Linked DNA regions of Homo sapiens: region 2 is linked to region 1. Evidence: fine-mapped expression QTL. Tissue or cell type: prefrontal cortex. Region 1 holds a variant in brackets; the other region holds the start of a gene. All regions are shown on one strand. Distances are between the middles of the regions.

The links. PIP is the estimated chance that this variant, and not a neighbour inherited with it, causes the effect.
Region 2: it holds the start of NUP35, and the variant in region 1 is fine-mapped to the expression of NUP35 in prefrontal cortex (BrainSeq, PIP 0.95).

The regions. Positions count from the first base shown.
Region 1 is chr2:182,339,690-182,344,689 of GRCh38, forward strand. All of the region lies in intron 1 of PDE1A (phosphodiesterase 1A), which reads right to left. It overlaps LOC124907915 (a long non-coding RNA gene), which reads right to left and starts at 2,774. Exons shown (of 2, transcript XR_007087329.1): 1 at 1,120-2,774. The variant G/A (reference allele first, on the strand shown) is at 2,723.
Region 2 is chr2:183,121,392-183,126,517 of GRCh38, forward strand. It overlaps NUP35 (nucleoporin 35), which reads left to right and starts at 3,052. Exons shown (of 9, transcript NM_138285.5): 1 at 3,052-3,106. The coding sequence starts at 3,067. LOC124907917 (a long non-coding RNA gene) reads right to left here and starts at 3,566. Exons shown (of 2, transcript XR_007087331.1): 1 at 3,402-3,566; 2 at 2,526-3,316. RefSeq lists an enhancer at 3,102-3,870.

The DNA.
Region 1 (5,000 bases):
CAGAGGAAATTAAATATTCTACTTCCATCTATGACAGTGGTTCCAAAACCTGCCCACTCATAATCTCTTGTAGAGCATTTTAAAAATATTAACACTCCATGAAATTTTGATTTAGCAGGTCTACTCCATGTAGATTCCATGAAACTTTTGCAATTATTCTTATGTTTTGTGAAAGAGGGAGAAGAGTTTTCATTTTCTAAAGTCCTAAACCCAATTTACTTAGGGCAAAGGGAATGATAATCATATATTCAATATCCTACTTTATTCTAGAGATGTAAATATGCCTCAGAATAATCCTGATAAAGCAAGCTCTTGCTGCGTAGTTTGGGCATAGATGGCTGAGATTATACTGTAAAATGCAACTTTCATTAAAGAACAATTTATGGGGATTGTTGAATTATGACAAGGCCAAGGTAAACGTTAAAATGAAGTATATGCAGTTTGTAGATTTATAAAATTGTCAGAAGAGTTTCAAAATAAGCAAATGGCTGCTTTTAAGGTCATTTGTAATATATGCAACTGTACTTCTATTTGCTTTCAGGCAAATTATATCCAATTTAAATGTTATTCTTCAGAAAGTATGTCTAATAAAATTCACCACCATAACTTCTGCATGGGTAATGCCTGCTCTCATCACTGAAGACTAGTTTGCTGTCAAAACTTTCAAAGAGCCTCCAAGTGAAATGAATACTGAAGAATAAAGCTTCTAAAGGCTATTTTGGGTTCCGACACCTCCTTTCTCATGTGGCATTAAACTAAGCCAAGGGCACCTTGTCTCATAAAACTCACTTCATGAAATACCTCTTGTAAAACTGCAGAAAATGGGAAGTTTGAAATTAGAAACAGAATACAAAAGAGAAGCTAGCCCTTAACTACATGTAGCATCTTCAGATTTTTAAGTAGGAGGAAAAGTGGTTAAGAAAGGGTTTTCTGTGAAAATTGCATGACTATGTTATATATAAATTAAATAGCTAGAATGTAAGGGACAATAGCTAGCTTTTCTGTAGCCCTGATGTTAAAACAGAAGGAAGTTAACCGAAATCTGGGTATTAAAAATAATTTAATGATGATGAATGTTTTAACAGATCAAATGGATATATTGTAGAGAATTTCTCTTACCTCTCCTTTAGAGTCATGATGCCTGGTTATGCCAGGCTAGTTGTAGAATCATGGATAAATCAAACGGATCTTCTAGGTCTCAGAATTCTCATTTGTAAAATGGAGAGTTTGGATACGTAATTTAACTTCTAAGGTGTCTTCCTGTTCTCTGGACTCTGACTTAAAGTGTTATTTCCTCCTAGAAGCTTCGAAAGTGTAAACTGTTTTCTAACATGCTCTGGCATTGTTTAGTATGGTGCTGAGCATACAGGAATTTGGCTGTTCATTAATAATAAAACCTAAGTTTTCAATAGTATGTTACTCCTTCAAAGTACTCTTATAAACATCAACACTTTCAATCCCAATTCTCACAACGTTATAGAGAGGAACATGGACATGAATAATTCCCTTCATTTTATTAAGGAGAGAAGCAAAATTCAAGCGATTTGGGATCCTATCTAAATTACAAGACCAAGAAGTAGCCAATCTGGCTCAAGAAGCCAAGATTTCTAACTCCTCATCCACAGCATCCTATTGATGAAGTCATTTGTATGAGTTGTGCTTGTATACAGAGGCTATTTTTCTAAATTTCTAACTATAAAAACAGCAATATTTGTGGCAATAACTGTTTTAATGTCATCTTTGAAGATATCCCCATTGTTAATCGTCTTTGTTTAGTCCCATGGTACACTCATATGGGAACTCCAATCTACCTCATAGTTCCCTTCCCTGAAGATTCAGCAGCCCCAGAAACTCCAGCCTGGCCTGGTCATATATTTTGATAAACAGGTGTGACATGCAGTTTTATCTTATCCATCACCCCCATAAAGCATAAGCTCTTACTTATGAAATTTTCTTTGTAACTTCACTGAGTGAGCAATTGATAGGGAGAAAGCTATTCTTACTCTGGTGCTTTATTGTGTTCACATGTGACACTTTCTTTGAATAAGCTACAAATTTGGTAAAATTTCTTTATCCTCTTTTTTTGAGATAGGGTCTTTCTCTGCCATTCAGGCTTGGAGTGTAGTGGTGCAATCATGGCTCACTGCAACCTCAAACCTCTGGGCTTAAACAATCCTCCCATCTCAGCCTCTCCAGTAGCTAAGACTACAGACACACGCCACCACACCCAGCTACTTTTTTTAAAAAAGTGTTATTTATTGTAGAGACCAGGCCTCGCTATGTTGCCCAGGCTGATCTGGAACTCCTAGCCTCTAGTGACTCTCCCACTTCAGCTTCCCAAAGCACTGGGATTAACAGGCATGAGCCACCACACCCGGCCCTTTTCTATAGTTATCTTTTATATATTAGCAGAATTTTCTCATATTTGCTCCCAGAAATTTTGTGTTAAATGTTCATTTTATAACTATTAAACAATCTTTTATGTTTTGGCTGAGAACATTTCACTTCTTTGTACTATACCTGGACCAGACTTGGTAGACAAATCAGAAAGTGTTGTTGTTGTTTGTTTTTATATAGTATTTTTTGTTTCTTAAATTTTAAGTTCAGAGGTATATTTGTAGGTTTGTTACATAGGTAAGCACGTGTCATGAAGGTTTGTTGTAAAGAAAGATTTTTCAAAGATTCTGAAGCAAAAAACATCACCTAAACATAGGCCAGGCAC[G/A]GTGGCTCACGCCTGTAATCCCAGCACCTTGGGAGGCAAAGGAGGGAGGATCACGAGGTCAGGAGATGGAGACCATCCTGGCTAACACGGTGAAACCTCATCTCTACTAAAAATACAAAAAATTAGACTGGCGTGGTAACACGTGCCTGTAGTCCTAGCTACTCAGGAGGCTGAGGCAGGAGAATCACTTGAACCTGGGAGGTGGAGGTTGCAGTGAGCTGAGATCGCGCCACTGCACTCCAGCCTGGGCAACAAAGCGAGACTCCGTCTCAAAAATGAAAAACAAAACAAACACACACAAAAAAACTAAGTTAATTTATACTGAGTTTTCTATTTAAAATATAGAAATAGTCATCATTTATATGGAACCATATTACATAACATAATTTCATATGGAACTCTTTTGCAAGAAAGTCAATAGACTCTTTCATACCTATAACTAGAGATTCTAATGTGTTATACTGAAGAGAGGTTCAGGGCTCCAGAATAATAAGACACTTTCTCTGTCCCTTAGACTCCTATGCAGGATAAGGTGAATATACAATATGTATATGCACATACATGCGTTCACATATGTTTGTGTGTGAATACATGTACAAACTGCATATGAAGAATAAATGCAACTATAATTATGTTTTATAATTGGACTATGGAGTGGATACATTGTCTTATATACAAATAGGCCCATAATACTCATTGGTTGACACCTGAATGTTCTGCATGAATCAGTTCATCCACTTAGAGTGTGCATAATTCAATTTACAATGTCACCACCTGCAAGGACACGGTCAATTCAGGTATAGTCACAGTTCAAGGTTGTTTTGTTTGGGCATTTTGGTGGAAATTTAACATTAAGCAGGCAGGTCTAATTCCTGCTTATTCACTATAAATTAGAGTTAATAGTTATCACCTTATTCCCTGGCTAACATTTAATAGATATACAGCACTATACCAACTAACCACTTCACAGTACATATACATAATTTAAATAGGAAATAATTCTGAAGGTTTTCAGATGCCATAAGCAGCAGACCTAACTAGGTGATCTTTGAATTTTATTCTTACAATATTAGTATAATATGTTTCTTCTAAGATAAGAAAACAACTAGAAAATTTGTCATTAAAATTGCTCCAACCTCTAAAAATTCTTACACTTAAAACATTTTGCAGCCTAATTGACAAGGTTAGCATTTTATACAGGTCTATGTCTTCTAAACTATTATTGTGTTTTTGCAATATACTTATCAATTAATTGTGATAACAATTAAATTGGGTATTGTGGTACCAGAATTACAATATTACCATTTATGATTTCTTATATTTAGTAATTAAGATATTAAATGTTTTATCTCTGGCAAGAATATCCAAAGACCATCGACCATATTTTATCTCTGTCAAGAATATCCAAAGACCACATTACTATGTCCAAATACATAGTAATCTCTTAATCTTTTTCTTTTTCTTTTTTTTTTTTTGTTGAGGCAGAGTCTTACTCTCACTCAGGCTGGAGTGCAGTGGCACAATCACAGCTCAGTGCAGCCTCAACCTCCCTGGGCTCAGGTGATCCTCCTATCTCAGCTTCCCAAGTAACTGGGACTACAGGCACACGCCACCATGCCTGGCTAATTTTTAATATTTTTTGTAGATTCAAAGTCTCATTATGTTGCCCAGGTTGGTCTCAAACTCCTGGGTTCAAGTAATTCTCCTGCCTTGGCCTCCCAAAGTGCTGGTATTACAGGCATGAGAAATGAAGCCTGGCCTTTTAATCAATATTTTTGAAGCCATCACTGAAATTTAATTGAAAATATTGTTTATATTTTTGCATCATACTATAAAATATATGAATATAGGGAATCTTATTCATATGCAATGAAATATATATAATGTTTACAAAGAAAATATGAACAAATATTTTAAAATGAAAACTCAGGATTATAAGTATACACAAATACATTGTATGTTGATTTGCTCTTACTAATGGCTGCAAATTGGCTTCAATCTTCCTAGCTATTGTACTTAATTATAACATAATTTGATTGTCTCCAGACTCCATACTATTTTATACACAATCACTCAGAGCAGAGCATTCGACTCATCTTGGCTTTTTTTAACACCTCCACTTGTAGTCATGGCCTCTGCTTTACCATTATGTCAATACTTATGGTTATTTTCTGGACAAAGAAATATTCAGTACCAAAAGTGTATTTCTATCTTTACCTTTGCAAGATGGAAAACTGCTTGCATCTTTAAAGTAATAGTGTCTGTACTAGGTTTTTGT
Region 2 (5,126 bases), 780 kb after region 1:
TGGAGGAGCAAGGCCTAGGGAGGGTTTCAATTCTGGGCTTCTTTATAGCTTGGTAAGGAAAGAGCCTGTTGAAAGGGTAAAAGATTGAAATGCAGGTAAAGAAAAGAAAATAAATGTCTTAATGGAAAAAAGTTTTTAATTTAAAAAGTAAAGAAAATAGGGCTGGGCGCGGTGGCTCACACCTGTAATCCCAGCTCTTTGGGAGGCTGAGGCAGGTGGATCATGAGGTCAGGAGATCGAGACCATCCTGGCCAACATGGTAAAACCCTGTCTGTACTAAAATTCAAAAAAAAAAATGAGTTGGGTGTGGTGGCATGCGCCTGTACTCCCAGCTACTCGGGAGACTGAGGCAGGGGAATCAGTGGAGGTTGCAGTGGAGTGCCAGAGCTGAGATCGTGTCACTGCACTCCAGCCTGGTGACAGAGCGAGACTACATCTCAAAATAAATAAATAAATAAATAAAATAGCAATAACACCTGTCATCAACCACAAAATTGTATAAAATAAGTTAAAGGCCATTCTTTTTATTATTATTATTATTATACTTTAAGTTCTAGGGTACATGTGCACAACGTGCAGGTTTGTTACATATGTATACATGTGTAAAGGCCATTCTTAAATCCTCCAATTTACAAACCCTTTTCTACTTTACTGTTAATAGTTTGGTGCAAATCTTTTTCTTTTTCTTTTCTTTTTTTTTTTTGGACACAGAGTCTCGCTCTGTCGCCAGGCTGGAGTGCAGTGGCATGGTCTTGGCTCACTGCAACCTCCACCTCCTGGGTTCAAGCGATTCTCCTGCCTCAGCCTCCCAAGTAGCTGGGATTACAGGCATGTGCCACCATGCCCGGATAATTTTTGTATTTTTTAGTAGAGATGGGGTTTCACCATGTTGGCCAGGCTGGTCTGGAACTCCTGACCTCGTGATCCGCCCGCCTTGGCCTCCCAAAGTGCTGGGATTACAGGCATGAGCCACCATGCCCGGCTGGTGCAAATCTTTTTCAACATCTTCTTTTATTTAAAGAAGTATCACTCTTTTCTCTTTCTCTGCATCTGTTCCTAAATAAACCCGTTATTAAATAAAAATGGTGCCGTATATGCATGCATGTTTTCAAATTACTTTTTTTCATTATATCTATCACAGAGGTCTTTCTAGGTTAATATTTACACTCATATCAAATCCATCTAATTCATTTTAGTTGTTGTATAGTGTTCTTTTGTTTGGCTAGATCATAATTTGTATAGAAATTTCTTTTTTATTTTGTAGAGAAGTGGGGTCTCACTATCTCAAACTCCTGGACTCAAGTGATCAACCCCTCAGCCTCCCAAGGTGCTGGGATTGCAGGTGTGAGCCACCACATCTAGCCTCAATGTGTGTAGAAATTTATACATTGATATACCTTTCTTGGTAGCTTAATTCTAAAAAGTGGATTGCCCTGTGTTGTGGGCTGACTACTCCCCAAAGATATCCATACACTAAGCTTTAGAATCTGTGAATGTTACCTTATATGGCAAAAGGTATTTTGAAGATGTGATTATTAACTTAATCACCTCTACTGAATATTGAAATAGTAAGATTATCCTGGATTACCTGGGTGGGTCCTAAATGTCATCACAAGGCTATGTGATGGCAGAAGCTGAACAAAGCAGTGTCAGACAGACCAAAGATGCTACATCGTTGGCTTTGAAAAAGCAGGAAGGTGGCACAAGCTAAGAAATATAAGTGGCTTCTAGAAGCTTGAAAAAGCAAGGTAATAGATTCTCCCCTGGAGCCTCCAGAAGAAAATAGTCCTTCTGGTACTTTGATTTTAGCCCTACAATACTCATTTTGGATTTTTGGCCTCCAGAACTGTAAGAGATACATTTGTGCTGGTTTAGTTAACCGAGCTTGTGGTACTCCAATGTGACTTTATCTGAACTTTATTACATCTGCAAAGACCCGATTTCCAAATAAGGTCATATTCATAAGTATGAGGGTTAGGACTTGAACATAAATTTTTGAGGGACACAATTCAATTCACACACCCATTTTCAAAAAGTCAATTCGATCTGTGAGTGGTTTTAAAATTTGATTTCTGTGAACCTACCATTTAATTCTGGAATTGTTACTGCCTCATTCCAAAGACAAAATTCTTCCTCCATTTGAGATTTTAGGAAGTCCTAGAAGAAATAGCTGAGCATGGGTGGATATTTTGGAAATAATCCTCATGGTATGGAGCAGAGAACGTCCCCAGTTATACATATGTAGCACATTATTTTATAAAGTTAGTATTTGAGCAAAACTAAACAATATATTTTTACACACACATATGCAGAATATGTGTATGTGATTTACGTATGACTATGCCCTAAAGAAAAGCAGCAAAGTGAGGGGACGTGGACGGCAGGGATGGCACATGCAGAAGCACGCAAGATTCCGCGGTGTGGAGGGTTCGTGGGTGCGTATAATTATCTTCCATTATTTACATGTGTACTTTATGCGTTCGTTAGCTATATTTTTGTATGTTTTAATATGCAACAAAACGGCGTATGAGTTACGCTTTAATGTAAAATTGTCTACATAACACAAAATTTAAAAGAAATGGCATACGGATAGTAGAAAACATGCTTTGAGGAAAAAGCGTCATGTACTAAGTCCAGAAATCGACATTGCAAAGAGGCACCAACTGTTTTCATCAAGCTGACTTTTCCAGGTGCTACTCAGAAAAGCTGACCGATGATAGAGCACTGGGTCAACTCACGCTAATTATGAAACCGTGAGTAAAATAATCTGTGCTTCTATGTAACTTAAGTACCCACAAATCAGGAAGCATTCCCGGATGAAAAGCATTCACAGAACCATACGCTGGTTCGCCACCTTCCCGGTGCAAAAACCCTTTCCTCGGAAATTCTCAGCGCAAAGACTTTGCCCTATTCCAAAATGGCTCCGGCGCCTACAACTTAAGCATAGCGCAGGTCCGGAAGTTACGCAACCCCATAAGGTAGCACGCCGTTACCCGTGGGGAGCGTTTCCGCCATTTTTGAAAATTAATTGGGAAGGTACTGGTTTTAAGTGTAGTTGCCGACGCAATGGCAGCCTTTGCAGTGGAACCTCAGGGGCCCGCGTTAGGTGAGTGAAATATTGCTTTTCCTTGCTGGCACTGCCATCCATGCTCTGGGCCTGGAGGCGGGCAAGACTGAAAGGCAGTCGTCAGGCTCTCGTCTGCTGGTTTCAGTCGCGGAGAGGGAATCCTTGGGTGCCCCCAAGTTCATAGTCGGTCCCCTACTCGACGCGTCGCCTCCATACTGCTACAAAGGTGGCGCCGGGAAGCTGAGGGCCCTGGGAGGGTGAAGAAAAGGCCGTCTGGCGGTGACTGAGCTGTGTTTGTGCCCCCACACGCCAGCCACGTTAGACTGGCCCATACCTTAACCTCCTTCTGATACCCGAGACGCGATGCTGGTTGCTGGATTCCCAGCTGGTTGCTGGTCCCCAGAAGCATCCCTGGGAGGAACTGACCGCGGTACACGTGGGTGGGCGGTGCCCTGAAGTGTGTGGGTGCAGTCCACTGCTTCTTGATCACCGGTGCTTCCAGTTCCTGTTTTGACTCCTCTCTCCCGGGCTTTGCCAAAGGAATCTTGTTATTAATGGAAGCTTGAATCGTGCAACATTTAATCAACCGTGTGGTTGGTAATCATTGAGATATTGACCTTAACAGCAAGCTAGGAGTTCGCACGATATTTCCCGCCTTTATTTGGGGAAAGTGACTCTTAAGTATTGTAGGAGGTATTTTTCTCTAGTAAGTCACGATCTGAATTTTTTTAAAGATTCATTCCCATTATTCATTGCGGAGCCTCGTTGAAATATGTCGTCTTTGAAAAAAATCTACCACTTTAACAGCACGCGGATTTCTTTTTTTCCTGCTGAGTTTTGCGACTTGTGAGAATCGTCGAAAATTTTAGAACGGAAAATAAACCGTCTTACTGTCATAGAGACTTACCTGAAAAGTTAGGTTATAACTTTCTGAGCTTGGAAAAGAGAGCAAATGTAATATATATGGTGTGGAAAGAGTCTTTAGATTTGAAGGGTATGTAATGCTTGCCATGTTTGGTGTAAAATAAGTTCTTTTTGAGAATAGAGTAACTTGAACTACTTTAGTCTGTCATAAAAAAACTAAATGCATAATGTCAATAATGCAGATACTCTGCATTAAAATTTATATATAGATGTCGTCTTGGTATTTATTTTTAATGTATTTTAGAGATCAAAAACTCTTCATTTCCAGTTCCAAATTTTTCTATTCAACAAAAACATTTTGGAGTGCATATTTATTGGGGTTACAAATGTGAGTAAACCAATCCCTGTATATTGCCTTGCCAGAAATCTGACATTAGCCAGTATTAATGTTTAAGTCCACATTTTGCAGATATTCCAGGTGCCCACTGGTGTAGTAAAACTAAGGGTTGACTTCAACAAACTGCTAGCTGAGTACGTATCTTTTGGGAGCACAGAATATGAAATGGAATTGAGGACATGCAGCATCTTTTCCTTAAGTTTGCTTTAAGTGAAATTTAGCCTGAGGGGTGGTTGGTGACAGTCCTGATTAAGAGCCCATTGTGCCCTCCTTCCTGTCTGGTGCTTTCTTTTTTCTTTTCCTTCCTTCTTCCCTCTCTCCCTCCCTCCCTTCCTCTTTTTTGACACAGCCGTGTCACCTGGGCTGGAGTGCAGTCGTGCAGTCTCAGCTCACTGCAACCTCCCCCTCCGGGCTCAAGCAATCCTCCCACCTCAGCCTCCCAGGGGCTGGGACCACAGTGTGCCGCCACTCCCAGCTACTTATTGTATTTTTGGTAGAGACAAGGTTTCGCCATTTTGTCCAGACTGGTCTCGAACTGAGCTCGAGCGATCCACCTGCCTCGGCCTCCCAAAATCCTGGGATTAGAGGCTTGCGCCTTCTACTGTGTCTGTATGTATCCAGATACATCAGAACTTTTCTTAAGCCAATTCTTACTTTATTTTGCTATAATTTTTTTTTCTTTTAGGGAGGGGGAGTGAATGTAGTGAATGTTACCAAAAACTTTGCGTTTAATATGGTATTCTGAATATCTGTTAAGAATATGCTTTTGTTTAGACTTTTGGTTTGATTTTAGTGGAT